Linked DNA regions of Homo sapiens: regions 2, 3, 4, 5, 6 and 7 are each reported to be linked to region 1. Evidence: microRNA targets listed by miRTarBase, many of them from high-throughput screens and not tested one by one. Region 1 holds a microRNA gene; each other region holds the end of a gene's coding sequence.

Region 1 (4,399 bases):
CCACCTTCCTGTGACCCCCTGAGCTCCAGCCCAGAAGCCACAAGTCTGCCCTGGGGGCTGGGGCCCAGGTGCACCACTGGGGGCAGGCATCAGGAGAGGTAGCTCCCTGACCGTGACAGAGTCCAGGAAGCTCTTCCTAGGAGACCCCACAGAGACTGACTGTCTAGGGACAGTGCCAAGGGCAGTTTGCCCATGCGCTCCCACCAGCTCTCAAGTGTCCCCCTCCCCAGGCTACTGACATGGAAGGTCCATTCTGGCTAGGAGCCAAGTCCCCTCCCCAGGAAGGAAAGTGGTACAAGAACAAAGCCCCAGCCCCCATCTCTGGCCCCAGAGGAGGGAGCAGCCAGGGGCCACCTTCCCTCCGAGGGAAGGGCCAGGCTGGAGGTCAGAGCTCCAAGAGGAAGCTCCAGCTAGGCTAGGGCCACATCTTGTACCCCGAAGGAACACCCCACTCCCACCAGTCCCTTTGGTGTTGTCCTGGAACGATCCTGGGGCCCCTTCCCCTTCTCTAGGACCAGAAGTGCCCCTGGGGGATGCTGCCTGTCCCCTCACAGCGGGAGGAAGGAAGAAGGGGACGCCAAGCCCCGGGGTCAGTGTTGTGGTCAGGCCGGGGCTTGCTGGGGCTGCCTATGCCACTTCTGTGCCCTCCAGGGGGAACCTGCCCCTGAGGAGACTGGTGGACCGTGTTCTGACTCTGCCTGGCTGACTGGGGTGGGGGTGGGAAGATGGAGGCACCAGTGGCTCCTGCTTGTGTCTGCAGCAGGCGACTTGGGTGGAGGGGCTGGAGGTCTGTGCTGAGGACAGCCGCAGAGGCAGGTTCCCTTTGTGGCCCTGCAGCGGCGGTGGTGGGGGTGGAGATGCCACTGCCTGAAACTCAAATGGTTCCTTTTATCCTGATCTTCTGCTCCCTGCCTTGGGCCTGGAGCTGGGAGAACTTCAGGTGACTCAGACTCCTGCCTCGGATTGAAGCCGGGGAGGAGAGGCTCAGCCTCTACCTGGTTAAGAGGAAAGAGGCAAAGCTGCAAAGCCAGGTCTGGCACTCGCCCCAGGGGAAGGGGGCTTTTGGGGAGGGGGTCGTCCTCTGACTGTTACCGGGGCATCACAGCCCAGCCGGGGCCTGGGATGGGCGCGGGGGAGGCGGCGCAGAGGCGGTGCCGGGCGTCAGCAGGTGGCGCTGGCTTCCGGGGACAGAAAAAAAACCCCTGCAGCAAACCCGAGTGGGTGTCACTGCGGCTGCAGATGGCGGCGGGGGAGGGATTTGTCATTTTCTCCCTGGGCTGCGGAGTCTCACGTGCCTGGTCCTGCACAGCCCAGAGCCGGCTTTGGGGGCGGGATGCGGTCCGGCGTGTCCACCGCCCTCGTTTGGACCCTGGACGCGGACGCAGACCCCCGTCCCCATGCAAGCCTGGTCCTGGGCTGCGGGGGCTGCTCTGGGGCCACAGCGAGCGCCGCCTCCGCCCCGCCCCGCGGCGCAGCGGCCCGAGGAAGGGCAGACTTAGCGGTGACCTCAGACCCTGCCCCACCTCCTCCCACGTTGCCGTGGCAACTGTCCAGGGCGCCCGCTGTGGGGGCGAGGGCCGCACTTGGCCGCCCTCCCGTCCCGCGGGGGCCGCCCCGCCGCCAGCACCGCGGACAGCGCCGCACCCTAGCCCGCCGCCCCACGCACCCGCCCGCCGCTCCCCGTGGACCCTCCCTTTGTCTCCCGGGCCCCGCCGCCCTCTGCGGGCGCCTGGGCGCTCCGCGCTGCGGACACACGTGGCCGGGGGCCGGCTGGCCGCAGCCTGGCCCCGGCCGCAGGCTCCCCCCTCGGCCGCCCTCGGCCGCCCCCACCCGCCCCGCGACGCCAGAGGCGTGCGGGCCCCTTTGTGTCCCGCGGCCAGATCCCCGGCCCGGCAGCTGGGCCGCACTCTGGGCGGGCGCATTGTTCGCCGGATTTGTCCGCGGCGCGAATGGCCGCCGGGGGCCGGGCTCGCCTTCCTCCCGCGGGAGGGGCGCTGGGCCGGACGGGCTCGCGGGCCATTTCCATGAGAAAGGAGCGGCGGAGGCGCCTCTCTTGGCATTCACCGCGTGCCTTAATTGTATAGACATTAAATCAAGGTCCGCTGTGAACACGCAGAGGGGCCCTCAGGGCTGGGGCGGGCGGCGAGCGTCGGGGCCAGGGTCGGGACCGGCTCGGGCTTGCGTGGGGTCCTCGCCCGAGGGGCGCGAACGCTCAGGCGTCTTCGCCGCGTGGCGGGCAGGGCGGGGGCGCTGCGCTCAGCCGACTGTGCTGTCCCAGTCCGCCCCCGACTCGGAGGAGCCCACACTTCTCCCCTTTCCGCGGCAGAGAGTGGGCCCCCAAGTGCGTCCCTCCGGGCGTTCCTGGAGCTGGGGCGCCCGGGAATCGCGAAGACGGATTCCGGGGGTGGGGGTGGTGAGCGCGTGCGCACCCGGCCGCCTCCCGCGGGGCTCCGAGGGGCGCAGAACCGCTCCGACTGGGCGGCGCGAGCTCCTCCGCAGCTGCCTTCCCCTGCCGTCGCCCTGCCCGTGCCGACCCAGGAGCGCGCACCGAATGCGGTTAAAAGAACGAATCTCGATGCTCAAAGATGAAAACTCGTCTCTTTTTACAACCCAGCGAGCTCGTCCTCTCCGCGCGCAGCGGGCCCGCGAGAAGGCGCTCGAGCTGTTCGTGGAGAGAAAGACGGGGAGACCCAGAGAGGCCGCTTGCCCGGCTCGCCCCGGCCCGGCCCCGAGCGTAATTACCAGTCCCGGCGGGAGCCGCTGCTGCCGCCTCCGCTCCCTGCGCCTCCCGCGCCGCCGCCAGTTCCCGCCTGCTCTTCGGCTCCCGGGGGCCCCGCGCGCTGCTGCCCTGGGCGGAGAAGGGCGCGGGAACCCCGAGAAGGGAGCCAGGCAAGTCCCCGAGCGCCGCAGGCCGGCTGCGAGCCGAGTGTCCACGGGGTCCACGCTGCAGGCGCCCAGCTCCTGCTAGCCCGGCCCGGCCCCGATGCAACTGTCCCCGCGCCCGCCGCCGCCGCCGCCGTCGCCGTTGCCTCCGCGCGTATCCGCGCTCCGCTCCGGCACCGGCCGATTATCACTGGGGCGCGCGGTGACGTCACCCGGACACCGGCCCCGCCGCTGCCTCCCCGAGGTGTCCTTGAGAACTGCGGGGCACGCGCGCCGCGCACACGCGCACACACGCACTGCGCGCCTCGTGCCTCCCGCGCATTCGCACCGCGTCCCGCCCCGCGCGCTCCTCGGCTCACGCGGACTCAGCCATCGAGCGCCCTCGACCGTGCCCTGCGCCCGGCGGCCACACGGAGACCCAAGGAAACGCCTGTCTCCCACACACTCCAGCCCCTCACATGGCCCTCCTGCACCCACGCGCGCAGCCCCTCCAGCTGCACATTGACACCTCTAGCCACACCCCGCCACGCGCACGCCTCGCCACGCGCACGCCTCGCCGGCACGCAGCCCAGCGGCACCCGCAGACACGCACCCGCACTCGGGCCCTGACCGCGGGTTCGCGTCTCCTGTCTGGCGCCTGCAGAACGCACTCTGCCGCGCAGCTCACACCGCGGTCCTCCAAGCCTCTCAGTCCTGAGAAAGGCAAGGGTCCCGCCGGCCTCCTGCGGATGGCCCTGCTGGGCTCCGTACAGTGGGGTGGGAATTAAAGGTCGTCCTTCCCCGCCCCCATCGGAGCTTGCGGTTCTCACAGTTTCAGACCGGGATGGGAGCTCTTGCCCGTAGGGACCACGGAATCACAGGCGACACTCCACGGCCCGACTGCAGTCACTGCCAGCTCGATAGGGTCCTTGGGGCGCCCCCGATCTGGCCCTCTAGGGCCAGGGATCAGTGGCTTCCCCAAGCCTCACCGTCCGGAGCCTCCCCCGCTGGCCTTTGTTTAGACTGCAAGGAGCGCAGGCCGGCGCGGCCGGCAGGCCTCTGTCCCCATCTCCTTCCTCCTAGGGCCAACCCAGCCCCTGCGCCATCTGCCCTCGGAGCAGAGCCTGGGCCTCCCTGGGAGCAGGTCCTGCTTCCTTCCTTTTCCACCCTCTCCAGCACTGCCCAGCCCATGGACAGCCGGTTAGGAAGGGCGGCAGGAACTCGGGTTGGTTCTGCCCGCACCGACTCCGCCGGTCCTCAACCATCAGGACGCCCCTCCCCCTTTGGTGCGGCTTCAACCTGACCCTTCCCAGCCGCAATTCCTCGCCCTTCGCAAGTGTCAGGGACAATCTTTCTTTCTCACAGGTCACGCACAAGCCCTCTACTCCTCCACAGCCCAAGGGGAACCTTCTGTTCCAAGCGCAAAGCTCTGGAAGCTGCCCCAAGCCTGCGGGTGCCGGCAGCCTCAGCAGGTGCAAGCCGGACGCTGGAGGGGCTGGAGGGCTGGGGAGGCCAGGCTGCAGCAGCCCCGCTTCAT
Region 2 (4,000 bases), not on the chromosome of region 1:
GTACATTTAAGTATTTTTTGTTTTTAAAAACAGTGGGAATAAACTAATGGCTCTAGTTTGTAAACAAAGATCTCTAAAAGGAAGTGGACACTCTAAGTGATATCATCTTCTTAAGGTGGCTCTTGTGTAGGCTCTTTTAAAACATCCCAGTGGTTGTGTGAGTGTGTTGGTTGAAAAACCAGTCTCCTACTTTGTAGGAGGCTGGTCTGTCAGGGCCCTTCTCTTGCCTGGGGTTCAGAATTTCTGCTTTTGCATTGATGGTAAAAGTTGGCCTTGGTCCTGCTGTTTCTGCCAGGGTAGCATTTGTCAGAGCAGAGTCCAGGCAGCCCCACCATGTCCCCTGGAGCCTGTGGGCAGCATTTCTCCTGGCAGCAGTTCTGAGATTGGTGGTGGTACTGTTGGCAGCCTGACGGTTACCAGAAAAGAGGTATAGAATTTTCTCTCTTTCCCTCTACTCATTTCATTTTCTCTTTTAGTCTGAACAGCAGAAGAAGCAACAGGAGGCTGAGAAACTGCATCGACAAGAAAGGAAAAGACTCCGTCGTTCGGCCGGACACCTGAAGTCAAGACACAAAAGAGGACGGTCGTTTCATTGATTTGGGAAGTGGTCCTACCTGTGATTAGGGAGGGGTACGTCTCCCCCAAACTGATCATCGTTAGGGTGTTAAACACAGACGAGGAAACACACGTTTTTAAAGTTCATGTACGTTCTTGTACACAGAGGTAAAGATTTGAAAACCTGTGCCTTGTGGGTTGGACTTTGAAGCTGGCCCCGCCGACGGCCACCGCACAGCCCCAGGGGTGTGCTTGCGAGTCGTTGCTCCCTGGAAACATTGTCCTTTCCCCACGGCGTTAATCATGAAAACCAGGCTGGGGTTTTTTTAATATTGTGAAATGTACACCATGAAATGAAAGGTTTATCCTGTGCCAGAAACCAAGGTTTATCATGCTCTAGGAACTTTTTTCTTACACTGCCTACCGCCATTCATGATTAAACCATCCAGAAATACCATCCCTGTTTTACCTGGTGTCTGTGTATTGCCTGTGTTTGTGTTTATAAGTTTATGCTGATAGGTTTGTTCGGCTTGTTTATGTATTAGTTTGGGATTTGTTTTTAAATAATTTATACCAAGAGAGTATAATCTAATGGTGCAGGTTGAGAGCATCCCAAATCCGAAAATCTAAAACTGTTTGAGCACTGTATTTATCTGTTCTTGCACTGCTATAAAGAACTACCTGAAACTGGGTAATTTATAAGTAAAGAAAAGAGGTTTAATTGACTCACAGTTCTACAGGTGGTACAGGAAGCATGGCTGTGGAGGCCCTGGGAAGCTTACAATCGTGGCAGAAGGTGAAGCGGAAGCAGGTATGTCCTGCGTGGCTAGAGCCAGAGGAGGAGGGCAAAGGGGCAGATGCTGCACACTTTCAAACACCAGATCTCCAAGAACTCACTAACACAGAATAGCAAGGGGGAAGTCTGCCCCCATGTTTCAGTCACCTCCCTCCAGGCCCCTCCTCCAACACCGAAGATTACAATTTGACATGAGATTTGTGTGGGGACACAGAGCAAAACCATATCAAGCACTGACATGACATTGGAGGAAAATGCTCATTAGAGCTTTTCAGGTTTTGGATTTTCAGATTTGGGATACTTGACTAGTAAATATAATACAGATATTCCAAAACACACAAAAAAACCAAAGTCTAAAAGACTTCTGGTCCCAAGCATTTCAGATAAGGGATACCCAACCTGTAATAATGGGAAACAAGCAGTAGAGGCTGTTGGTTAATCTTGGCACAAGTTTAATTACAGGTTTTTTTTTTTTCCTGTTTCTTAAGTACAGTCAAACATAAACTTACTGGAGGAAACATTTATAAAAATAAATATACTTTCATTTGAATAGCTTCTTTGAGAAAGACTCCAAGAAAATTTTTTTTTCATTAGTCAAACGGTGGTGTGCACTTGTAGTCCCAGCTACTGAGGCTGAGGTGGGTTGCTTGAGCCTGAGAAGTCGAGGCCAGCCTGGACGACAGAGCAAGACCTGCGTCTCAAAAAAAGAAAGAAGAGAACCAACTTTGGTTTCCTTAGTTTTTCCAGCTTTGATGTGATTTTGGAGGTGCCTTTATAGATTTTTAAGGTTCTTTATATACAACTGAAATAGTAACTCTTTGGACTGTGAATGATACAGCCTAATTTCGAATAGCATAAGCCGAGAGGCAGAATGCATTAATTTACATCACCATGCTTGGGACATGGAACTGGCCTCAGGAACACCTAGATCCATGGCTCCACGGTCAGTCAGCTAGCACATGCGCACTCTATCTCTGTTTCCCTCTTTCTCTCTCTCTCCTTCCCCTACTCCCTCCCTTCCTCCTCCTGTCTCACCATTGTTCCTTCTCTCTTCAGGCCTCCCCTGCTGTCTTTTCCCTATGTGTTTCCCGTCCCCCTGCCTCTGCTCTCTGTGCTGCTTCTGCTTCTGTGCAGATTGGCTTGTTCCCAAGGCAGGGAACAGCTCAGCCATGTGTCCACTTCTGTGGTCCGAGAAATGAGGTCTGTTTACAGAAAAAAGGTGTGTGGAAGGTGGGGTATGTGTGTATGTTCTTGTTCCTGGGGCACCCAGCCCCATTTGTGCTGTGGTACCAGGGAGTCCTCCAGCTGTTCCAACCCCTGGACCGGTACTGTCCTTTTTCAGCTTCTTTCCCCCTAAACTCTTGCTCACTGTCCACCTCTTCTCAAAGGAAGTGGCTGCAGCTTCCTGTTGCCTTCTCTTCTCTGTTTCTACGCTGCCTCCCTCAGGGATGGGGGGTTTTAAAAATTTAGAGAGGGACATTTTGCTGGCTGGAATGTCCCCAGGGGTTGGGTGTTTATGCCCTTGGCCTGTTTCCTGACGTCAGGGTCTGTCACGTCTACTCCTGGCTTTCCCAGGCCCCTCTTTTCCTTCCTTCTTGAAGGGCCTCCTGGTTCTGTGGGGAGCCGGTATTCCGCAGGGCCAGATTCCACAGGCAGCGGTGCTCTCTGTTCACCCAGCACTGTCAGCACACCAGGAGGTCAGGACATCAGGGTAGAGGAGGAGGGCCAGGATCACTTCTGGGCACCTGGGAGGCTGGCAGTTTAGTAGAAAGAGCTTGCATTTGGAACCACCCTGACACAGGGTCGAATTCCAGGTCTGTTGCCTACTAGTTCTGTGTCTTTTGACTGTTGCCTTAATCTCTGTGAATCTCATTTCCTCCTGTAGATCAGCCTAATACTTAGTTTTTATTAGAGTAAAATGAGGCACTTACATTAGGTACAGCACCTGGCACTGTGCAAGGCTCATGAGGATTTGACAAAGCTTCTTGACCATTGAGGGTTTTCAAGAGCAGGGGAGGTGACCTCGGCTTTTGTTCTGGAGAGTTGCTGAAGGGCAGGCGGAGGGACTGCCCTGAGTCTGAGGGACACAGAAGGAGTGTCCGCTGACGACAGCTATATGGGTACTCCTCCTAGGCCTGACCCGTCCCTCATTGCCCCAGTTTTCCTACCGATTCAGCCCTTAACGCAGGCCTGCCTCTTCAGGGCTGATTCCCAGCGTGCCTGCTCTAATCCTTCATGTCTTCGAAGTTTCCTGTTTCCAAGTTTTATTCAGCTTTCATACTCTACTCCATAATTTTTCCGTGTGTGTGATATACTACTCACTAGTCCTAGGAAATGGCCATTTCCCATGGGTCTCTGTCCCAGGCACGCACAGCTGGGGGTGTTCATGAGCCAGTGCGAGAAGCATTTCCTCACAGATGGGGCCCCGAGGGCATGGCTTTTACAGCGGGACTGAGCTGGGGGTTCCTGGGCTGCCATTTCTCCCCTTCCCCTGCTCCAGATCCCCTCAGCCTCTGACACCCCAGACCTAAGGCCCAAGTTTGTTTATTTGTTTCCAAGTTTGTGCTCAGCAGTTAGGATAATGGTGGCTTTGGAGAGAGGGGGGAACATGGCTGGGAGGGACGTGATGGGGGATCCTGTTTGGTCTTG
Region 3 (4,399 bases), not on the chromosome of region 1:
GCGATTCTCCTGCCTCAGCCTCCTGAGTAGCTGGGACTTCAGGTGCACACTGCCACACCCGGATAATTTTTTTGTATTTTAGTAGACACAGGGTTTCACCGTGTTGCCCAGGCTGGTCACAAACTCCTGAGCTCAGGCCATCCGCCCGCCTCGGCCTCCCAAAGCGCTGGGATAACAGGCGTGAGCCCCCGCGCCTGGCTTCTTAATTGTTCTAACAGCAGCCACAACAACAAAAACCCAGCTCTGAGATTCCAGCCCCGGCGACTCTAACAGTCCCAGGCCCGATCCCTCACCTAGAACCGAGATGCCAGCCCTGACTCCACAGACTTCACCCCCAACCCCCACACTCAGCTCTGGAAGCCCGTCCTGACTCCAGCCTCCATTTTCGGAACCCCACAGCCTGAAGAGCTCCCGGCCTAAACACTTCACCCCACGCGCCACAGTCCCCCTGTGAATATGCAGCCCCGATTCAGCTGCAGCTCCACAGCACCCCTGCCCTGCACCCCCGCTGCACCCCCTACCTGTGACTCACCTCTCTCCTCTCCCCACAGATGTCCCGCCTGGCCCTGCCCCAGCCACCCCCGGACCCGCCGGCGCCCCCGCTGGCGCCCCCCTCCTCAGCCTGGGGGGGCATCAGGGCCGCCCACGCCATCCTGGGGGGGCTGCACCTGACACTTGACTGGGCCGTGAGGGGACTGCTGCTGCTGAAGACTCGGCTGTGACCCGGGGCCCAAAGCCACCACCGTCCTTCCAAAGCCAGATCTTATTTATTTATTTATTTCAGTACTGGGGGCGAAACAGCCAGGTGATCCCCCCGCCATTATCTCCCCCTAGTTAGAGACAGTCCTTCCGTGAGGCCTGGGGGGCATCTGTGCCTTATTTATACTTATTTATTTCAGGAGCAGGGGTGGGAGGCAGGTGGACTCCTGGGTCCCCGAGGAGGAGGGGACTGGGGTCCCGGATTCTTGGGTCTCCAAGAAGTCTGTCCACAGACTTCTGCCCTGGCTCTTCCCCATCTAGGCCTGGGCAGGAACATATATTATTTATTTAAGCAATTACTTTTCATGTTGGGGTGGGGACGGAGGGGAAAGGGAAGCCTGGGTTTTTGTACAAAAATGTGAGAAACCTTTGTGAGACAGAGAACAGGGAATTAAATGTGTCATACATATCCACTTGAGGGCGATTTGTCTGAGAGCTGGGGCTGGATGCTTGGGTAACTGGGGCAGGGCAGGTGGAGGGGAGACCTCCATTCAGGTGGAGGTCCCGAGTGGGCGGGGCAGCGACTGGGAGATGGGTCGGTCACCCAGACAGCTCTGTGGAGGCAGGGTCTGAGCCTTGCCTGGGGCCCCGCACTGCATAGGGCCTTTTGTTTGTTTTTTGAGATGGAGTCTCGCTCTGTTGCCTAGGCTGGAGTGCAGTGAGGCAATCTGAGGTCACTGCAACCTCCACCTCCCGGGTTCAAGCAATTCTCCTGCCTCAGCCTCCCGATTAGCTGGGATCACAGGTGTGCACCACCATGCCCAGCTAATTATTTATTTCTTTTGTATTTTTAGTAGAGACAGGGTTTCACCATGTTGGCCAGGCTGGTTTCGAACTCCTGACCTCAGGTGATCCTCCTGCCTCGGCCTCCCAAAGTGCTGGGATTACAGGTGTGAGCCACCACACCTGACCCATAGGTCTTCAATAAATATTTAATGGAAGGTTCCACAAGTCACCCTGTGATCAACAGTACCCGTATGGGACAAAGCTGCAAGGTCAAGATGGTTCATTATGGCTGTGTTCACCATAGCAAACTGGAAACAATCTAGATATCCAACAGTGAGGGTTAAGCAACATGGTGCATCTGTGGATAGAACGCCACCCAGCCGCCCGGAGCAGGGACTGTCATTCAGGGAGGCTAAGGAGAGAGGCTTGCTTGGGATATAGAAAGATATCCTGACATTGGCCAGGCATGGTGGCTCACGCCTGTAATCCTGGCACTTTGGGAGGACGAAGCGAGTGGATCACTGAAGTCCAAGAGTTCGAGACCGGCCTGCGAGACATGGCAAAACCCTGTCTCAAAAAAGAAAGAATGATGTCCTGACATGAAACAGCAGGCTACAAAACCACTGCATGCTGTGATCCCAATTTTGTGTTTTTCTTTCTATATATGGATTAAAACAAAAATCCTAAAGGGAAATACGCCAAAATGTTGACAATGACTGTCTCCAGGTCAAAGGAGAGAGGTGGGATTGTGGGTGACTTTTAATGTGTATGATTGTCTGTATTTTACAGAATTTCTGCCATGACTGTGTATTTTGCATGACACATTTTAAAAATAATAAACACTATTTTTAGAATAACAGAATATCAGCCTCCTCCTCTCCAAAAATAAGCCCTCAGGAGGGGACAAAGTTGACCGCTGATTGAGCCTGTCAGGGCTGTGCACTAAGTGTGGGCTTTTTACTTACACAATCCTCCTGGACTCTTGAATACGCCCTGTTTTACAGGCGAGGGAAACTGAGTCTCAGACAAGGAGTGGGGACTCTGTTGCACAAAGTCACACAGCTAGGGAGAGGTGGAAGTGGGATTCTGCGCCGTGTCTGGCTCTTTCCCAAAGCTCTCTTTGCAAGTCGGTGTTGAGGAATCCTCGCCACATGCACACACATGAGATATGGAGAAACAGGTTCAGTAAGGATTTGGGTCTTACCCAGGGCCTAGAGAAGGGTCAATGGCAGAGTAGGGATGATAATTCAAATGCTTTAGTTACTTTTCCCTTTACAATAACCCAGACAGACTTCCAGGGGCCCCGTGTCGTCACTAGTTTGAGTCTGGGGTTGGAGGTGCCCATCCTGGGCCCGGAGTTTTGATTCACCCATCATAGCCCTCAAGACTCCAGGCTGGCTGGGCGCGGTGGCTCACGCCTGTAATCCCAGCACTTTGGGAGGCTGAGGCGGGTGGATCACTTGAGGTCAGGAGTTCAAGGCCAGCCTGACCAACATGGAGAAACCCTGTCTCTACTAAAAATACAATCCAGCTACTCGGAAGGCTGAGGCAGGAGAATCGCTCGAACCCAGGAGACGGGGGTTGCGGTGAGCCGAGATCACATCACAAACAGCCCTAGGCAGTGCGGGGCCCCAGGCGAGGCTCAGACCCTGCCTCCACAGAGCTGTCTGGGTGATCGTGCCTCCTCCGTGGAGGCAGGGTCTGAGCCTCGCCTGGGGCCCCGCACTGCATAGGGCTGTTTGTTTTTGCGATGGAGTCTCGCTCTGTTGCCTAGGCTGGAGTGCAGTGTGGCAATCTAAGCTCACTGCCTGGGCAACAAGAGTGAAATTCCATCTCAAAAAACAAAAAACAAACAAACAAACAAAAAACTCCAGGCTGTATCCCTGGAGGAGAAGGGAGCCCACAGTCCCCGGAGAGTTCCTGGAAGAGGCCCCTGTGTGTCCGATGAGGTCACAAAGCCCCTCCACCAGAGGCTCCTCCCCCAGACCCCTGCTGTCCACCCTGGCAGGGCCATGGCGGAGGCCCGAGTCTCCCAGCCTGGGGCATCTCCACGCTCTGTAACGCTGAGCTCCAGGCACCCGTGAAGCCCCACGGGTCAAGGCTGGTGGGCCGGGGCTGGGAGGCCTGCACGCCTGGGTTCTGGGTCCCTAAACCAGTACCCATCCACCACAGCCACCATGATCTGGCTTCGAAACAGGAGGTGCCTTGAGCCGCTCCAGGGCACCCCGAAGTGGGTCCCTGTTCTGGGGGAGCTGCAAAAGACCCTCCAGAAGGGCGAGTACCTGCCCCTCCGTCCGCTGCCCATGTTCGAGAGTAACTTTGTTCAGGTCTCCAGTTCCCAGTGCCCCGGGGCTGAGAGGGACAGAGGGGAAGCAAGGCCCCCCGTGCTGGGGGATCTTGAGAGGGAACGGGATTTAGCAGTCACTGTGTGGGGGACGATCAGGAGGGAGGCTCAGGCTGTGGCTGCTGGAGGAAGGAGTGGTCCCAGCCCCCTCTCCCTGGCTGCCCCAGGTGACCCATCAAGGGGGCCCAGTGTTCGTGAATCACAGAACCAACCGGCTGGCCATGGGCGTGGCCGCCTCCCTGCCAGGCCTGGTGTTGCCTGACATCTTGCTGATCGGCCAGCCCGCCGAGGACAGGGACTGCTCCGGCCTCGTGCTGACCAGGTGCCGCATCCCCCAACCCCTCGGCCGCCCCCTCCACCCCTCCTGCTCTAGACGCTCCCCTCTCCCTCTCCCAGGATGATCCCCCTGGACCTCGTCCACCTCTGCGTCCATGACCTCTCTGCCTGGCGCCTGAAGCTGCGCCTGGTCTCGGGCCGCCAGTACTACCTGGCCCTGGACGCCCCTGACAACGAGGTGGGCTTCCTGTTCCACTGCTGGGTCCGCCTCATCAACCTGCTTCAGGAGCCGGC
Region 4 (4,399 bases), not on the chromosome of region 1:
CAAAGGTAAAGCACTGAGAGTTTGGGGCCTGGGCCTCCTGTGCTGCTCCTAACCACTCAGCTGACTCCCCTGGCCCTGATGTGTGGCTTGATTTTTAAACACTAAACAGCTTGTGGTGCCTAACCTGTCAGTTGCTGGTAACTTTGTAGGCCGTTTACGAATGGACAGAGCGGGTGCCCGGGTAAGTGCAAGGAAGGCGCCCCCAGGCTGTGTCCTCAGGGCCGCTGTGCTCCTTCACAGATGGCCACTCCTGATGCTGGGTGGAGTTTTTGCCCCCACTCCTTGCCTTACAGGCCATCTCTTTCCTTTTAATTAACTTCCAGCCTAAACGGCTTTGTTCTTTTGGATGTTGACGTCACACAACGTGCTGTGGGAGTTATGCACGATTTTCTACTGGCTGTTTTGGGGGAGACCAGGTGTTGTAGACCCAAATTTAGACTTAATTTCAGTACTACTAGTACATGCCCTTAGGGTGACAGGGCAGACTTCTCGTCACATAATGAAAGCGGGACGTCGCTCCTTTAGTCGTCCTCAGCTTGTGCTGCAGTCTGTCTTTCCGGCGGGGGGACCCAGGCCTGGGACGGAGTCTGGTGTTGTCAGCACACTGCCCACCAGAAGGAGCTAAAAACTACCCCGAGACTGAGTCTGTATTTTATGATATTAGCTCCATCCAGCCGTACAGTAGAGTAGACCATATTTTAAGTTTCTTGTCTTGGTAAAAATCTGTAGAGTAAAATAAAATGGCAGTTTCGTGTGTGGGGCTCCCCCATCTCAAGCTGCCCTTTGAGATCTGGGCAGGAACCCTTAATCCCATCTCTCACCTCACCCACTAGACCTTGTGCCGGAGCCGACTACTGGAGATGACAGTGATGCTGCCACCTTTAAGCCAACTCTCCCCGATCTGTCCCCTGATGAACCTTCAGAAGCACTCGGCTTCCCAATGTTAGAGAAGGAGGAGGAAGCCCATAGACCCCCAAGCCCCACTGAGGCCCCTACTGAGGCCAGCCCCGAGCCAGCCCCAGACCCAGCCCCGGTGGCTGAAGAGGCTGCCCCCTCAGCTGTCGAGGAGGGGGCCGCCGCGGACCCTGGCAGCGATGGGTCTCCAGGCAAGTCCCCGTCCAAAAAGAAGAAGAAGTTCCGTACCCCGTCCTTTCTGAAGAAGAGCAAGAAGAAGAGTGACTCCTGAAAGCCCTGCGCTAACACTGTCCTGTCCGGAGCGACCCTGGCTCTGCCAGCGTCCCCGGCCACGTCTGTGCTCTGTCCTTGTGTAATGGAATGCAAAAAAGCCAAGCCCTCCGCCTAGAGGTCCCCTCACGTGACCAGCCCCGTGTAGCCCCGGGCTGACCCAGTGTGTGCTCAGCAGCCCCACCCCACCCTGCCCCTTGTCCTCTCAGAGCCTCAGCTTCTGGGGGAGACATGCTCTCCCCACAGGGGGGAGGCACTAAGTCATGGTCCTGGCTGGAAGGTACTGAAGGCTTCTGCAGCTTTGGCTGCACGTCACCCTCCTGAGCCTCACCTTTCCTGCCGTCCCTCCTGTTGTGAAATCACCACATTCTGTCTCTGCTTGGCTTCCCCTCCACCCTAAAGTCTCAGGTGACGGACTCAGACTCCTGGCTTCATGTGGCATTCTCTCTGCTCAGTGATCTCACTTAAATCTATATACAAAGCCTTGGTCCCGTGAAAACACTCGTGTGCCCACCAGCGGCCTTGAAGAGGCAGGTCTGGGCCAGATGCTGGGCAGGAAACCCCAGCGGCAGATGGGCCTGTGTGCACCCAACGTGATGCTATGCATGTCTGACCGACGATCCCTCGACCAGAATCAGATTCAGGAGCTCAGTTTCTTTTTCACTTGGGTCTCTGGATTCCTGTCATAGGGAAGGTATATCAGGAGGGGAAGAGGCCTTTCTAGAATTTTCTTTGAGCAGGTTTACAATTTAGCTTACATTTTTCGACTGTGAACGTGAATAGGCTGCTTTTTGCTTTCTTCTTTCCAGACCCCACAGTAGAGCACTTTTCACTTATTTGGGGGAGGCTTCAGGGGACTGTTCTCACCTTAACTCAGCCAGAAAGATGCCCTAGTTGTGATCAAAGGTAACTCGAGGTGGAGGGTAGCCCTGGGGCCCCTCGACATCACCGTCATTGATGGAGCCTGAACCGTGTGCTCCTCGGCAGATGCTGTTGTTGTTACTTCCCTCCAAGAGGCTGGAAAAGGGCTCAGAGCTGCTGAGCAGGAACCGGAGGGTGACCCATTTCAGGAGGTGCCGGTACCAGCCTGACTAGGTACAGGCAAGCTTGTGTGGGCCCAACAGGCCCTTGGTAGAGCTGGTGCCAGATGTGGGCTCAGATCCTGGGCATGATGGGCCGAGCCACCTCGGATCCCACTGATTGGCCAGCCGAGCGAGAACCAGGCTGCTGCATGGCACTGACCGCCGCTTCCAGCTTCCTCTGAGCCGCAGGGCCTGCTACGCGGGCAAGCGTGCTGCCTCTCTTCTGTGTCGTTTTGTTGCCAAGGCAGAATGAAAAGTCCTTAACCGTGGACTCTTCCTTTATCCCCTCCTTTACCCCACATATGCAATGACTTTTAATTTTCACTTTTGTAGTTTAATCCTTTGTATTACAACATGAAATATAGTTGCATATATGGACACCGACTTGGGAGGACAGGTCCTGAATGTCCTTTCTCCAGTGTAACATGTTTTACTCACAAATAAAATTCTTTCAGCAAGTTCCTTGTCTAAATCTGGGAAGCAGTTTTATATTTTAATTTCTTTGTTCCCATGTTTGTCTCGTGCTGAAAAGAGACCTCCTAATGTTCATGTCTTGATAAAATGTCACCTGCAGCCACGCGTGCGGCAGGACGTGCCACCCAGCACTCCTGGTGTCCCTCTCCACGGGAACTCAGGGTGTCCAGGGAACTGCTGGCCTGTCCTTGTCCCCATGGTCCCAGTCTCACTGTCACTGTGTGCTCATGTTTGATGGGGAGGGCTCTGTGCTGGGGACATCCTGCCAGGGTGCGGGGCACACTGCCAGATACCACCTGGCCAGGGCTGACCCCAGCCTTGGAGGAGCCTGCCTGAGTGAGTCCCCAGGCTGCCACTGTGCAGAGGGGGAAACTGAGGGTCTCAAAGAGCCTTGGACCCTTCCGGTCAGTGGAGCCATTCATTCAGCTCCAGCTGCCTTTCCTGGTGTGGGTAGAAGCACGGCTATATATGGCGAAAGGCACTTGGTATAAAACAAACAGGTGCTTTATTTCATCATCAGAAACCTGGTGCATAGTTTAAAAAACAAACAGAAGCCCTGACAGCCTTGGAGTGCTGCAGCTCGGAGTCACTGAAGGAGTAAGTAAGTCTGGAGGAGCTGCCTGAGCTTCCTGCTTAGGGGCCGGCCCCCACCCACAGGGTCTCCCTGGACTGGCGGGGGGTGGGGGTCAGGCAGTGGGCAGGGGCCTGACCTAGGCTCCCACTCTGCCTGGTGCCCACAGCCTGGGCACAGTGGCTCAGCTACTCAGCCTTGAGCGTCTGTGCCGGGTAACTCAGCTTCTGCAGGAGGAAGAAGGGGAGCAAAAAGAGCCCGGACCACGTGGTGAAGCAGGCCTGGGCCCCGGCCAGCCAGTACACTGCGGAGAGACGGTGGCGTCACCCAGTCCCCGAGGGGGCTGGCACTTGGGAGGCGAGGGCAGGTGCTTGGCCCCCAGCCTGCCCCAGCACCATCCCGCGCCCTCACCTGAAGCGGCCACCAGGGGCCCCGCGGCCCTGGCCAGAGCACCTAGGCTGCGCAGTGTACCCATGACCGTGCCCTTCTGCCCTGGTGAGCCTGTGGGAAGAGGCACAGTCAGGCACCACTGCCCTTCTCCCGCTCAGGTGGCTTCGGCCGAGGGAAGGGGGCTCACCATAGCCAGCGACCACGGAGGACAGGCAGGGCACCACAACGGCGGCGGCTGGTGGGAGACATCGAGGAGGTGCCCGTCAGCCCAGGGGAGGGTGCATCACCCAGCCCCTGCTGCCCATCGGATCCCCTGCCAGGGCAGGGCCACTCACCAAAGGAGTAGAGCAGCAGCCCCAGGCCCAGCACGGGCAGAGAACGTCCCCAGCCGATGAGGAGGAAGGCGGGCACCAGCAGCAGGAGGGCCTGCAGGTGGGCACGGCAGCCTCAGCACAGCCCGTGCCCTGCAGGACTCAGGGGACTGCCTGCCACCCGCTTTGGAGGGAGCCCCCTACCCGCTTCACGGCAGCAACTTCCCCGCCAGGGTGGATCCGCCGGGCATAGGCACCCTGGATGGTGGCCATGGTGAGGCCGATGAGGAAAAACATCTTCCCCTGCTGTAGGCTGGGAGCGGGTGTGTTAGTGCAGGGCACCCGGGGCAGGGCCACCCAGGGCAGGGCCAGGGCGAGAGTGGCTG
Region 5 (4,399 bases), not on the chromosome of region 1:
TCATCTGTGATCTCAGGCCAAAAAACAATTATATCCTTATTTCTCTGAGTTCAGGCCCACGGTAAAGACATTAAACTTATACTTACCACTTCATGTTTTTCTAAATAAATGAATTTTAGAGACATCAACTTGCAAAGGAGCACATCAAACTTAATGTTACTCAAATTTTTCTTTAATAAAGACAAAGGATTTAACAATTTTTGCGCAACTATACTTAACTGACAAAGATGATTTGTTTAGGATCTTAAGGATAGCAAAGATATATGCTAAGAGGGTACCACCAGGAAAAAAGACAAATACATTCTATCACTAGAAAATGCTTCAAGACAAAAATATTAATTCAATAAGAAAATATTTCATTTTTTTTTTTTATCACAGAGACAATTAACTCATTTCTGTAATCCAGTTACGTGGCATACATTCCTTTTTCTAGTTTCTCATGCAAAAGTTTGGAAAGTTTTTCTCAAAACAGAGCAAGTTAGCGCTAATGGTTTCAAGTCAGGGCTGGGAGTCAGCCTAGAAGAGCATGCTCAGAAGGCCATTTACACTTACCTGACCCCAGCCTGATGCTCTCCCCCATCCAAAAGGGGTCAGTTAATTCCTATTACTAATGAATTATCTCTTATACTTACTCTATAGACATATAAATTACCACAAATGTGCCTATAAATTAACAAGATATCATTCAATGTGGAGGAGAGCAGCTGGAACCCAATGACACCCTGGAGGTATCTTGGTTACTCTTTTTAGAAAACAGAAAAAAACCTGCCTCATTCCAGGTAATACATAAAAATAACACTTTAACACAAAGTGTCATCCTGCCTGTATTCTTTCCCTAAAATGCTGTGTAAGGAACTCAGAATTAAATAAAATTAGGACATAAGAATTAACAAGTACACCTAAAACAGACAAGAAGTGTAAGTAAGGACTGCTTCCTGTAATCCTAAGCATATTGTTCCATGGGTAATTTTCAGAACATAAAAATACAATAAATACTATAATGGAAATATAGGGATTCATTTATTACTTTTTGGTTTACAAACAAAGGCACCCAATAATGCTTTTATTTCTTATAAAAGATTCTCAATTTACATTTAAAACAAACAAAAACCCACAAAACAATCCCAAGTTAATTCCTATAGACAACACAAAAAAGGGGGAAAAGGAAATTCTTTTCCCTGCTTTCAAGCTTTATTACACAGGTTCAAAAATGATTATTTTATGCCATCCTTAAGTCAAAGAACGTACTGCCAAGCTTCTCTGCACTAAGTCTTAGGACATGTTAATGTTGCCAAGTCAAATATAAATATAGTCTCAATGACATCACAATTTACAAATGCATATTCCAAGATTAAAACTGAATAGGGGGAAAAACCCCAAATGTTTTAGAATACAGTTTAATCAAATGAGTTAAGTGAAATAAGAAACATTTAATTTAGTAGGCTATCCTGTTAAATAAGAAGTTTGTGTAGGAAATATAATCAAACAGAACTAAAAATCACGTCTAGTAAATGACACAAATAATTTCTCAAATCTTTAAGTCTGACTTAAGTTCAAAGTCTAGCTGGTGGGGATTAACAATCTATATACTCTTTATACTAATCTTAGAACTTTAAATTCTAGAATGACAAACTAATTTATTCATTAGTTTTCTTTTGACAACAGAACTCTAAACACACAAAATTAATGCAGTGAGTGGCCTCAGCACCCTCCCAGTTAACATTTCTTTAAGCTAGATTACAAGAACAATAAAACCATTCAGAAGACATACACTCCCTATGCACTTCATAGGCCTGCCCAAGTTGTCCCCAACTCTTTTGCAAGACACACAGACAATTCATCTGATTCTAAGTCTATTCGGCAGAAGTATAAAAATCATACAAATGTTAGCATGTTTTCAACACATTATGGAAATACATTTGGAGAGATGGAGTACTCAATGTATATTATGTGGGCCACTTTAAATAAAAGGCATCATTATCTATTCCATTTTCAGACATTGTCATGGTCTCTTATACCTTTATATAAGGTATGGTCCTAGACCAGAGACTTTAGTATCATTCCAAAGAATATAGAGATATTTATATACATATTTCTTTTAAAATAATATTTAAAAGTTTTACTACAGAAAATCTGGCTTCAACATGGAAGCATTTTTCCTTTTCAAGATTATACACCTGCATGAAAGTAGGTGATTTCCTTTACATTTAGTTTTTCACAATAGCAAAATAAACTTTTTATACATTGCATTTAAATTGACAAAGAAAGTTAAGATGTAAAGCTCCATGTAACTTTTTGTATTGCGAACTGTTCTCTTTAAACATACTCCAGATACACTGCTGATTATCTAATACAGTACAACTTGATAAACTTAATTAGAAGTGTTATGCTGAACAATTTGTTAAATCAAATGTATGTTAAAACAGTAAGTAGAGTTAACTATTATGATTAAAAGGGAATTTTAATGTATCATTAAAATATACATCAATTTTCTTGCTATTACTTGTTTCTATAACGCATTTCTTTCTAAAGCTAAAATCACATGCATAAAAAATAAGTGATACCTTCAAACTCATTCAACAGTTTGCTACCTTATGTAGTATGTAAATAAAGTCCTTTATTTAATTTCGTACACATTATCTTAAGCATTATTTTATTTTTCTTGAAGGAATTCATCTTTCAAGGTCAAAATTAGTATGTGTTTACACACGAGTATATTTTTTAATGCTATTACTACCTGCAAATACATTCTTCCATAATAATGCACTTTCAGTTTTCACTGGAAAGATAGCACAAGCCTTTTAAAAGTCCTATGAATAAAATTTATAAAGGGAGGAGAACACAAGTATGGTGAATCCTTCCCAACTCCCACTTCCATCAAATCTCAAGAAATCCTCCTGCTTCAAAACATAAACAATCTCACAAGATTTTTATTTGATCATAATGTGGAAAAGAAAACTGTATTCCTATTCTTTTTGATACTAACAGTTTTACGGAATTTGTTTTCACTTTCTGTCAAAAAACACGTATGTTGCTGATATGGATTCTCAAACCCATTTAGATCGAATAGGGTCATTAGAATAATATAGCCTTCTGATTTTAAAAGCAACTGATTACTTATAGAAAAATGATATGCATCAGACGTTTAATCAGAAAAAGAAAAATGAGAACATCTCTTTCATGTTTGATATCATTTAACTTACAGAATGATGTGAAAATACGCTGGTTATAATTTTAAACAAAACTAAAACCCACTTCAACTAATGAAAAAAACAAAAAATGAAGAATCAAATATCTACCAACTTTGCTAGTATTACTGTCCAAATAAATGTCTTCCATTGCACTGAACATTAGAATTAGAAATTCACTATATGTTAAGGCATATTATTTTAATTAATATGTTCCAGAATTGCACAGTTATACTGGTCAGTGTTCCTATTTCCCCACTCTTGTCCTCAGCACACCCCTTTCTTCTAGGGCTCAAAATATTAAGTCATGGTTTTGGTGGCTACTGTAGATTTGAGCTGGCATAACACAGTGTGTTCACTAAGTTTTATGAGCATAAACATTAAAATGTTACATAAAATATACCATAATTTACTTCACACTCCGATCTAAGATGGTTTAATGTCTTGACAAAAAGTGAGATGACTTATACATTTTACATTTTGTACATTTAGATCACCATATGTATAGATGTTCTAATGCTGAATCCTTGGTCTTCAGTATCTCATAGTGCTGGATGCTCGGAAGTATGACAAAAACTTGTAACACAGACTAACCACAAAGTACCAGATATTTCTTGCCATTTGTGATCTTGCAATAAAAATGCGCCAGATGAGGATCACAAGGATAGTATTAAAACCATAACGTATATTCCGCAACCTGGAAAGCAAATCAAGAGATATGTTAGACAGTATTTTCTAGAAAAAAATATTGTTAGATGGCAGCTAATTAATACTGAGTTTTTAATCAAAGCTCAAATCCATATTAATTTGAAACTTATGATAGGCATTAAGTATACTGTAGGTAAAACAGATATGTACCTTGAATTTCTAGAGCTTCCCATCTAATCTAAAAAGGTTCATTCATTACATACATCACAGTACAGACAAAATAGAGCAAACTTTTTTTTTGACATCTTTAGTTGCTTACAAGTTGTCAGACAAGTAACTTACTCTTTCAGTTACAGGTGACAGTCACAAGATCAAAGGCCAAGTGGATAAGCCCTTATCCAAGCATAAAACATGGCATTAACTTGATAAAGGAGGATCCTCCCTTTTCTCAAAGAGTAACAATATGTTACTCTCATGTTTCAGCTCATGTTTCAAAAAATTTTGATGTTTCTGATGGTGTTTGAAAGAAATACAAACCTTTAGAGATGTAATAATGTTACATA
Region 6 (4,399 bases), not on the chromosome of region 1:
ATATTTTGTTAAAATGGGGAACATCTTTGGCAGAAAGTCACCCTTCAGAGTCTGATTTTTCACTGAGATCACTTTCTGAAGACTTCATCCAGCCTTCACAAAAATTATCCTTGCAAAGCCTATCTGACTCTAGGCATTCAAGAACATGCTCTCCAACACCTCATTTTCAATCAGATTCAGAATATAATTTTGAAAATAGTCAAGACTTTGTTCCATGTTCACAGTCAACTCCAATTTCAGGGTTCCACCAAACAAGAATTCATGGGATAAACAGAGCTTTCAAAAAACCTGTATTTTATTCAGATCTTGATGGTAACTATGAAAAAATAAGGATTTTCCCTGAAAATGACAAACAGCAAGCCAGCCCAAGCTGTCCAAAAAATATAAAAACACCTAGCCAGAAAATCAGAAGCCCTATTGTATCTGGTGTTTCACAACCAGACGTTTTCAATCACTACCCTTTTGCTGAGTGCCATGAAACTGATAGTGATGAATGGGTCCCTCCTACCACACAAAAAATATTTCCTTCAGATATGCTTGGATTCCAAGGCATAGGTCTAGGGAAATGCCTTGCTGCCTATCATTTCCCTGATCAACAAGAGTTACCAAGAAAGAAACTGAAACATATTAGACAAGGAACCAATAAAGGTTTAATTAAGAAGAAATTAAAGAATATGCTTGCAGCAGTTGTTACGAAAAAGAAAACTCATAAATATAACTGTAAAAGTTCAGGCTGGATTTCCAAATGTCCAGACATTCAAGTCTTAGCAGCACCTCAGCTGCACCCTATTCTTGGACCTGATTCTTGTTCAGAAGTCAAATGTTGCCTTCCATTTTCAGAAAAAGGCCCACCTTCAGTGTGTGAAACTCGAAGTGCTTGGTCACCTGAATTGTTTTCATAAAAAGTCACCTGAACCCAATTCCTGAACTTTTAAATCTGTTTGGAAATGTTTGCCTTCAGGGGTACGGAAAGCATTCTTTACATTTTGAACACTTGGAGAGAAGCAAATTGAAAACAGGACTCTGCTGGGAGCTACTGTGCCTTTTAAAATATAAAGCCATTGTTTTCCCCAGGGTTTTATCTAGAATACTATGATTAGGTAGTTGAGCACTTTATCTTATACTGTTTATTGTACTTTAATAATATTGTTAAGATTGTTTTTGAAAGTATTAATGTTTGTTAAAATCACATATACATCCAGAAATAAAGACTTTGCAAACCAAAACTTAGTCTTTTTTAATTGTTCAGCTCAGACCAGAAAATGCCAGCTATATTATAGGCCAATGAGTGTGCTGAGTTTGGGATAGAAAGCTACAAGATCACTGATCTTAAAATATGTTAGTCTGCTGGATAAGACAGATAAACAGGTAACTTCAATACAGTGCAGAAGATGCAATGATATGGGTTTGTAATGGGCATGACAAACATTTACGTTGCTATGAGAGCATGGAAGAAAAGCAGCTAACTCATCAGTGAGCTGAGGGTAAGAAGAAACGTTTTAAGAAAAAAAGCTATTTAGAAGTTGTATGTGAAACTGTTGCTATTTTATTTAATACGTATACACTGAATGCCTACTCTACATGCCAAGGGCCGTGCTTAGTGCTGGAAACTGAAGATAAAAATCAAGCTCCTTCCCTCAAACTCATGAGCTATTGGAATAATCAGGTAATTAGAATCTGGTAGGTTCTATGATAGGAGGTAAGCTTGGGGTGCTAACAGGAACAAAAATGAAAAGCAATTTTCAGACACTCAAGTCTTAGCAGCAGCTCTGCTGCACCCTGTGAAATCTTTCACATATACCTGGCCAGGTTCCTTTGCCATTCCCCACAGCAACCATTCCAAAACAATACTTTCTTCATGCCACAAAGCAACTGCTACTCTCCTTGCCTCCTACTTCATGGACAATATTGAGATCACTTGATATTTTCTCAACTTCTCGCACCCATACCTACCCACATGTCTATCTGTACTCACCCACAGCTGCTTTCCTCTAGTCTCAGAAAATACCATCTAAGTGCTAATCTTTCCATTTAGACTATTGATCTATTACACCCATCTTTGAGGTCTTATACCAAATATTCCCCCTATATTTTCACCTTCTTGCCCTACTGTGTCTCTCCCTCTCCACAATTTTTTATTTTGAAAATTTGCAAACAGAAAAGTTGAAAGCGGCCGGACGCAGTGGCTCATGCCTGTAATCCCAACACTTTGGGAGGCCGAGGTGGGCAAATCACCTAAGGTCAGTAGTTCGAGATCAGCCTGGCCAACACGGTGAAACCCTGTCTCTACTAAAAATACAAAAATTAGCCAGGCATGGTGATGCATGCCTGTAATCCCAGCTACTCAGGAGGCTGAGACACGAGAATCACTTGAACCTGGGAGGCGGAGGTTGCAGTGAGTCAAGATCTTGCCACTGCACTCCAGCCTGGGCAACAGAGTGAGGCTCTGTCTCAAAAAAAAAAAGTTGAAAGAATAGCACAATGATACGGAATGATACGGTATCTGTACATACCATTTAGATTCAATCATTTTAAACATTTTGCCTTTGTGTGTGTGTGTTTGGTTTCTGTGTGTCTAAATAGATACAGTTTTGCTTTGCTAAACCATTTAAAGGTAAGCTGCAGACAGGACATTTCACCCCTAAATTCTTCAGTGCAAATTTTCTTAAAGGCTTCTCTCTACATAGCCACAGTATCATTATCACACCAAGGAAAGATAACAGTAATCCCCAATATCTAATATTCAGCCCATAATCAAATTTTTCTACTTGTCCCCAAATTATAATTGTTATTTAACCAGAATTTCATCAAGGTTCATCCATAGTGTTTGCTTGTCTCTTTTTCTAGAACCTCACCTCTTATTTCACATAATAGTAACTTTATGGAAAAAAAACCTCAAACCACTGTTCTGTAGAATGTCCCACATTCTCGACTGGTATGTTTGCTTCCTTATACTATCAGTACATTGTTTCTCTACCCCACCCCAGTCCCCACATTTCCTGAAAATTAGGCCTAAAGACTAGATGTGATTCAGGTTTTGGCAGGGATATTCCATGGCTCATGTTGTGTACTTTATGTTGTAACACATGAGGAGACACAATATCAAGTTGTTCCACTATTAGTAATGCTAAGTTAGATTGCTTGGTTAAAATGTTGCCCACCGGATCTCGATGTTAAATATACTTTATTTTTCCTTTTTAAGAGTAAAGAGTCAGTGGTGGTAAATTAGTTTGCTTTTCCTTCTATCACTACAGACTCAAGAATTTTTATTTTTCCTATGGAAAGAAAAACAAGCCACGTCTGGTAGCTTATGCCTGTAATCCCAGCACTTTGGGAGGCCGAGGCAGGAGGCTTGCTTGAGTCTAGGAATTCAAGACCAGCCTGGGCAACATGGCAAAACCTCATCTCTACAAAAAATTAGCCAGGTGTGGTGGCACACGCCTGTAGTCCCAGCTACTTGGGAGGCTAAGGTGCACCCAAGAGGTGCAGCTTGCAGTGAACTGAGATTGCGCCACTGCATTCCAGCCTGGGCGACCCTGTCTCAAAAAAACTGGTGCATATTTATTGTCCAATCATTTCATACAAAGATTCTTAATTCTTTCTAGACTGTTTCCTAGTCTTTGGGACTAGGAAATAGTCTGTGTTCTTTTTGTCAGATGTTCTATTCCTGGCTAATTTCATACCTCCCTCTGTGATAAAAGAGTAACGATGCTGTTAGTATTTACAATGTCATGACTTCAGAAACTGTTTTTGTTGAGCTATATAGATCTTGCCTTAGCAGTTACCTAATGTCATTTGTTTAATGCTAGTTCCTCTGTGATGCAGCATCCGTTGTGCTACTGTGAATACTGGTTTCCAATGATCTCTCAAAGGTTGTTACTATACTTTGCTGGTGACTACCGAAAAGCAAGTCCTACCCAGAGTGTGCAGGAAAATAAATAATAATCCATTTTTTGGTCCTATTTACCATTTGTACTAAATATTGCTTCCCAACCATGCAGTCTTTTGAACATTTTAGGCTGCAATTACTGCACTCCTATACTGTGATCTCTTTCAATGTTGGCTGCACCCTGGAAGGATAGGCAAGAGCCTATCCTTGCTCTGTGGTTGGAGCAACAAGAGCGGTTCCATTTGTGCAAAGAATATCTATTCCTCCATCAGCATGGCTTAACGCCTAATCTGGAAATCACAGTGTCACTATCAACTGGAAATGAGAGGACATTGATTGGAAGTGCCCACTGGCATTGTGGACCAACAGTCTTAAAAGGCCTCAGAGAAGATAGGCATGGCCTGCAGAAGGGGGAAGGGTGACCTTCCTGGTGTCAGTGGCTGGAGGCAGACAGGGTAAATAACAGCTGCCACTACCCTCACAGACCAGGGAGAGCCAATGCACAGGCCT
Region 7 (4,399 bases), not on the chromosome of region 1:
CACAGTTTTCCTAATAAGGTATCTATGAAGACTGTTGTGAATTCCCAATAGACATTTCCCCAAGCCTTCATAAAATCCTAACAAAACAATGATTTTAAGGCAAAGACAGACCTTGGTCAAACTCTCTTCCCTGTCCCCTAAGATGAAAAGAATGAGGCAGAGATGTAAATTACTTCTACAGAATAAAGCTATCACATGACAAAACCATCACATGATAAAACCAAACAGGTAAGGTGCTCATGTGTGCATTAATGACAGCTATTACTTAGTGAACACCAGAAATGATCTGTTGTCAGCAATACACTGAGGAAATCCGATATTCATATGGTCTGAATAATCAGATAACTGAATCTATTAGTAGGAATAAGGGAAAGAAAAAAAGTGACCAGAACAGCCATAACGAAATCCTAAAATTCTAGTTCTTAGTTCCCTTGTTCTACTACCCTAACAGTTGTTTTCAAACTATATTCTAAGGAATTCTAAAGGTTCCTTGGGGGCTCCTCAGGAATCTTGGGGAAAGGGGGTCATAAGAACATGGAACTTCAGGACCCCTCATTCCCACTTCAATCAAAGTAACCCCACTTATGCTTGTTTTACATATTGAGAATCCATGTAATACTCCATCAAACAATACACTCTAAACAGTGTTTGATGACTCTGGTACAAATATTCTCAGAAATAGTTCAACTTTTTACCAGAAACTTCTTTCAAATAATGCCTAAAAGCCAGGGAAAACAAAATGTCCTGGGATTAAAGACTTGATTGAATTAATATAAGGTCCACAAAGGCAGGGATTTTGTCTGCTGTGTTCACTGGTATACCACAAAGAGACCAGAATTGTGGAACTTAGGGTTTCTTTGAAGACGAGGCCTGTAACAGAAATGGGGCAGTAGGGCGGGGGAGCTAGATTATAAACCACCTACAAATAAAAAAAGATTTTTTAACCCTGAAGATTTTCATGAACCACAGGACACTTGAAGTCCTCCATCCTCAGTGTTCCCCAAGCACTGGTTCTCCAACTCAGGAAAAATTGTTTGCCCTAAGTGTCTAAGCTTCCTCACTAGTAAAATGGAGATTTCATAAATTTTATAAGGATTGCCAGGCGTGGTGGCTCATACCTGTAATCCCAGCACTTTGGGAGGCCAAGGTGGGTGGATCACGAGGTCAGGAGATTGAGACTATCCCGGCTAACACAGTGAAACCCTGTCTCCACTAAAATACAAAAAATTAGCCAGGTGTGGTGGCACGTGGCTATAGTCCCAGCTACTCAGGAGGCTGAGACAGGAGAATCGCTTGAACCCAGGAGGCAGAGGTTGCAGTCAGCGGAGATCACGCCACTGCACTCCAGCCTGGGCAACAGAGTGAGACTCCATCTCAAAAAAAAAAAAAAAAATTTATAAGGATTAAGTATAAAGCACTTAGCTCAGCCTATAGCACAGGAATTTTTTTTTTTTTTTTGATGGGTCTTACTATCATTCAGTCTGGAATGCAGTGGTAAGATCATAGCTCACAGCAAGCTCAAACTCCAGGGCTTAGGCAATACCCCTGCCTCAGTCTCCCAAGCAGCTGGGACTACAGACACACGCCACCACACCTGCCTAATTTTTTTATTTTTATTTTTTTTTAGAGACAGGGTCTTGTTGTGTTAAACATGCTGGTCTTGAACTCTCTGGCCTCAAACTATCCTCCTGACCCAGCCTCCCAAAGTGTCCAGATTATAGATATGAGCCACCACACCTGGCCAGAAGGTAGTACCTGTTTTGTTTTGTTTTGTTTTGTTTTGTTTTTTAAAGAGCACTTCCCTTCCCCTGGAAGTTCCCATAATCCACAAATCTTAATAAATTAGAAACAAATATAGTGGTCCTAACAAGCAAATGAAGTGGTTTTAACTAAAGTATTTTTGAACTGAATCACTCATCTAGTTAGTTCAGCCATAAAGGAAAAAAAGTCTCTAAATCTGTTCTTGTGGCTCTTTGTTTAGATTCCCTTGAGGAAACAGAAGTATGAGAGCCCAGGGCATGTGAGACTCTCTCAGATCTATCAGGGACTAAAGGTTAGCGGCCCCAGACATAAGCCCATCTTGGTGTCATGCACAAAAGCTCTAGGCTCTTTGACTTGAAGGGAATCTCACAGATGAAGTCTAATACATTCCTTAGCTGAGGAAAATTAAAGGCCAGGGATATTAAGTGATTTGCCCAAGATCACAGAATTAGCCTAAGACAGCCATAGGTCCAGTCTCCTAACTACTTTCTACCAAGCGGCAGCTGAGTGAAAGACCCCTGCCCCAATCAGGCTGAATAGTATAAATCCAAATTCAGAAATTCAGAATCAACGAGGTTTTAGTCATATAACCCAAATTAATTTGTCTATCGATATAACCCAGCAATACTAGACATTAAAATCAGATGTTCATGAGACCCAAAGCCTTTTTTAAAAACTCCAATGAATTAATTCTACAGACCCAACTTCTATCTTTTTTTAATCCCTTTTTTCACTTTCTGTATTATCCAAGGCCTGTGGGACATCTCACCAACAGAGGTTATTCTCTCATTAGAATACAAGATCTCAGATGTATAACGCCCACCAGTCTCCTGGCTTGAGTTTGGCTAATTATTTCTGTGGGATTTTCATTTGTTTGGCTGTTAAGCTAGGAATGTTCTGCTTGTCTGCTGGCATTTTTTTTTTTTTTTTTTTTTTGCCAGCTCTTTATAGAAGGGTTGGCCTTTATTGACTCTGGTAAAATGACCCTCAGTTGAAGGCGGGGGGGTGGGGGTCAGAGTCTGAAAAACACAAGACTATACTGACTCTTCACTCTAGCCTTCTTACTCACTCTACTATTTTCTACAAACTCCCTCAGTAACTGACCAAAGATCAGCCTTATGTTCATGCTATTTCAGAAAGAAATGAAAAACATTCAGAGAAGTGGAGATAAGAATAATCTTGCTGATGTGGAAAGGTTCTATCTTGCTTTTGATTACAGCCAAGCTCAAGTTTCTTGAACCACTTATGCCACCTGGTGGCCAGCCCAGATAACACTAATAAAACCTAAAATTCATGTGTTAATATCTCAATCTGTATTGTATTATAACAAATCATACAGGAAGTTGTGGCAACATGGGTTGAAAGAGTTGATTATACCAGCCTCGTCTCTCAATACTTTTTGTGACGTAACCAATTTTTAGTTTTTGGGAAAAATATATTATCAAAGAAAACAATACAAATGTTTTGCACTTCCAAAAAAAATTTCCCTTTTCACCAACCACTCACCAAAAATATCCCAAACCCAACGACTCCAGTCGTACAATACATGTGCAAAAAGGGGCTTTAATTCATAAGCAAAATCAATTTTATTAGTAAGGCTCTTTCCACATGTCCAAAGCAAACAATTAATGAATTCCAGGGAAAACCACCTATATACAATGAAATTAGAAGTATCTCAGGATGACAAAAAATATACAAATATGTACACCCATAATCACCGCCGCCTCCGAAAACCTGAAAGGAAGGGAAACCAAGAATGAGGCAAAGGACAGTTGGAAAAGCTAAAGGGACAGGAAAACAGGACATCTAGAGGGAAGGGCTCACAGGGGTGGGGTCTCCTAGGCAGTACCCTGAATATCTTCCCAGGACAAAAGACGAGAAGTAGGAATAAAATTGAAATGGGATAATGGTTCCTTCAAGTGACACTTTACCAGTTCTATTTAGGGAAGCCTGAACAGGAGCTGTGGGACCTTAGAGGCAGAATCCAGAGATTCATTTTGTGAATGATGCTGATTTCCAGCTCAGGAAAGCAAAAAATAAAAGCCCACCTAAGGAGATTATTGCCCAGTATGGAAGAGATACTACAGGGCTTGGTGAGACCCAGAATGGCAAATCCAAAGAGACTCAATTTGTACTCCCCACCTTGCACCTGATCACCTAAGTCCCAGCAGTTCACTGACCTTTTTTCTTCCGACCTTTCTGAGGTATCTTCTTCCGCTTCTTAATAGGATTCTGATCCTGGAGACAGATGGAGAAGTGATGGAATGGCACTGTGGTTCTGAGAGCCAGCATCCCTTCCCAAGTTCCTCATGGTAATAAGCCCCACATACATTTTGCTGAAAGCATGAAAGTCACATCCTACTACAACCATATCTCAACCTCACCTCATCAAGATGAACAGTTCCCCCTGTCAAAGCACTGATGTCACTGAAGTGTGTAAGGGAATGAAGTTGTGAGCTCATGACATTTGCTCGTTTTCGCCGTCCTTTCTCTCGCTTACTGACGCTCAAACGCACCATCATGCTCTCCTCATAGTTAATCCTGCCAGAGAAAGACAGTTTCCAGCAGGCTCAGACCATGGAGATGGAAAGCTCCAGCCCACAACCTGGGCCCAAGTATCTACTCATCTCTTGTTCAG

What was found. Region 1 holds the annotated microRNA hsa-miR-124-3p (UAAGGCACGCGGUGAAUGCCAA, at 2,054-2,075, opposite strand). A microRNA usually pairs through its seed, bases 2 to 8, with sites in the 3' UTR of a target mRNA and lowers its output. Matches are read on the target gene's strand: a 7mer-m8 pairs with bases 2 to 8, a 7mer-A1 pairs with bases 2 to 7 and ends in A, and an 8mer does both.
Region 2: the mRNA of NOL10 is a reported target of hsa-miR-124-3p. Seed matches in the 3' UTR shown: 7mer-m8 at 742-748.
Region 3: the mRNA of IL11 is a reported target of hsa-miR-124-3p. Seed matches in the 3' UTR shown: 8mer at 872-879.
Region 4: the mRNA of SLC75A1 is a reported target of hsa-miR-124-3p. The part of its 3' UTR that is shown has no 7-base or 8-base seed match.
Region 5: miRTarBase lists FAR1 as a target of hsa-miR-124-3p. Seed matches in the 3' UTR shown: 7mer-A1 at 3,376-3,382 and 7mer-m8 at 1,045-1,051.
Region 6: the mRNA of DDIAS is a reported target of hsa-miR-124-3p. Seed matches in the 3' UTR shown: 7mer-m8 at 1,039-1,045.
Region 7: the mRNA of NGDN is a reported target of hsa-miR-124-3p. The part of its 3' UTR that is shown has no 7-base or 8-base seed match.

What each region holds. Positions count from the first base shown.
Region 1 is chr20:63,176,228-63,180,626 of GRCh38, reverse strand. MIR124-3 (microRNA 124-3) reads right to left here and starts at 2,127; the gene lies at 2,041-2,127. RefSeq lists a silencer at 1,343-1,632 and an enhancer at 1,920-2,880.
Region 2 is chr2:10,568,667-10,572,666 of GRCh38, reverse strand. NOL10 (nucleolar protein 10) reads left to right here. Exons shown (of 21, transcript NM_024894.4): 21 at 477-1,913. The coding sequence ends at 596. Among named protein-coding and RNA genes, the nearest start is that of NOL10, 120 kb to the left of the region's middle.
Region 3 is chr19:55,362,330-55,366,728 of GRCh38, reverse strand. It overlaps IL11 (interleukin 11), which reads left to right. Exons shown (of 5, transcript NM_000641.4): 5 at 552-2,347. The coding sequence ends at 722. GARIN5B (golgi associated RAB2 interactor family member 5B) reads left to right here and starts at 3,469. Exons shown (of 11, transcript NM_001145402.2): 1 at 3,469-3,812; 2 at 3,997-4,151; 3 at 4,226-4,399. The coding sequence starts at 3,663. RefSeq lists an enhancer at 3,058-3,662.
Region 4 is chr4:2,927,338-2,931,736 of GRCh38, forward strand. It overlaps SLC75A1 (solute carrier family 75 member 1), which reads right to left. Exons shown (of 13, transcript NM_001146069.2): 9 at 4,218-4,326; 10 at 4,038-4,128; 11 at 3,890-3,937; 12 at 3,724-3,813; 13 at 3,230-3,616. The coding sequence ends at 3,501. ADD1 (adducin 1) reads left to right here. Exons shown (of 16, transcript NM_001354761.2): 16 at 834-2,725. The coding sequence ends at 1,186. Among named protein-coding and RNA genes, the nearest start is that of SLC75A1, 5.3 kb to the right of the region's middle.
Region 5 is chr11:13,728,098-13,732,496 of GRCh38, reverse strand. It overlaps FAR1 (fatty acyl-CoA reductase 1), which reads right to left. Exons shown (of 12, transcript NM_032228.6): 12 at 151-3,885. The coding sequence ends at 3,723. Among named protein-coding and RNA genes, the nearest start is that of LINC02548, 54 kb to the left of the region's middle.
Region 6 is chr11:82,933,434-82,937,832 of GRCh38, forward strand. It overlaps DDIAS (DNA damage induced apoptosis suppressor), which reads left to right. Exons shown (of 6, transcript NM_145018.4): 6 at 1-1,226. The coding sequence ends at 902. Among named protein-coding and RNA genes, the nearest start is that of DDIAS, 34 kb to the left of the region's middle.
Region 7 is chr14:23,477,103-23,481,501 of GRCh38, reverse strand. NGDN (neuroguidin) reads right to left here. Exons shown (of 11, transcript NM_001042635.2): 9 at 4,146-4,302; 10 at 3,942-3,999; 11 at 3,329-3,495. The coding sequence ends at 3,476. Among named protein-coding and RNA genes, the nearest start is that of NGDN, 9.6 kb to the right of the region's middle.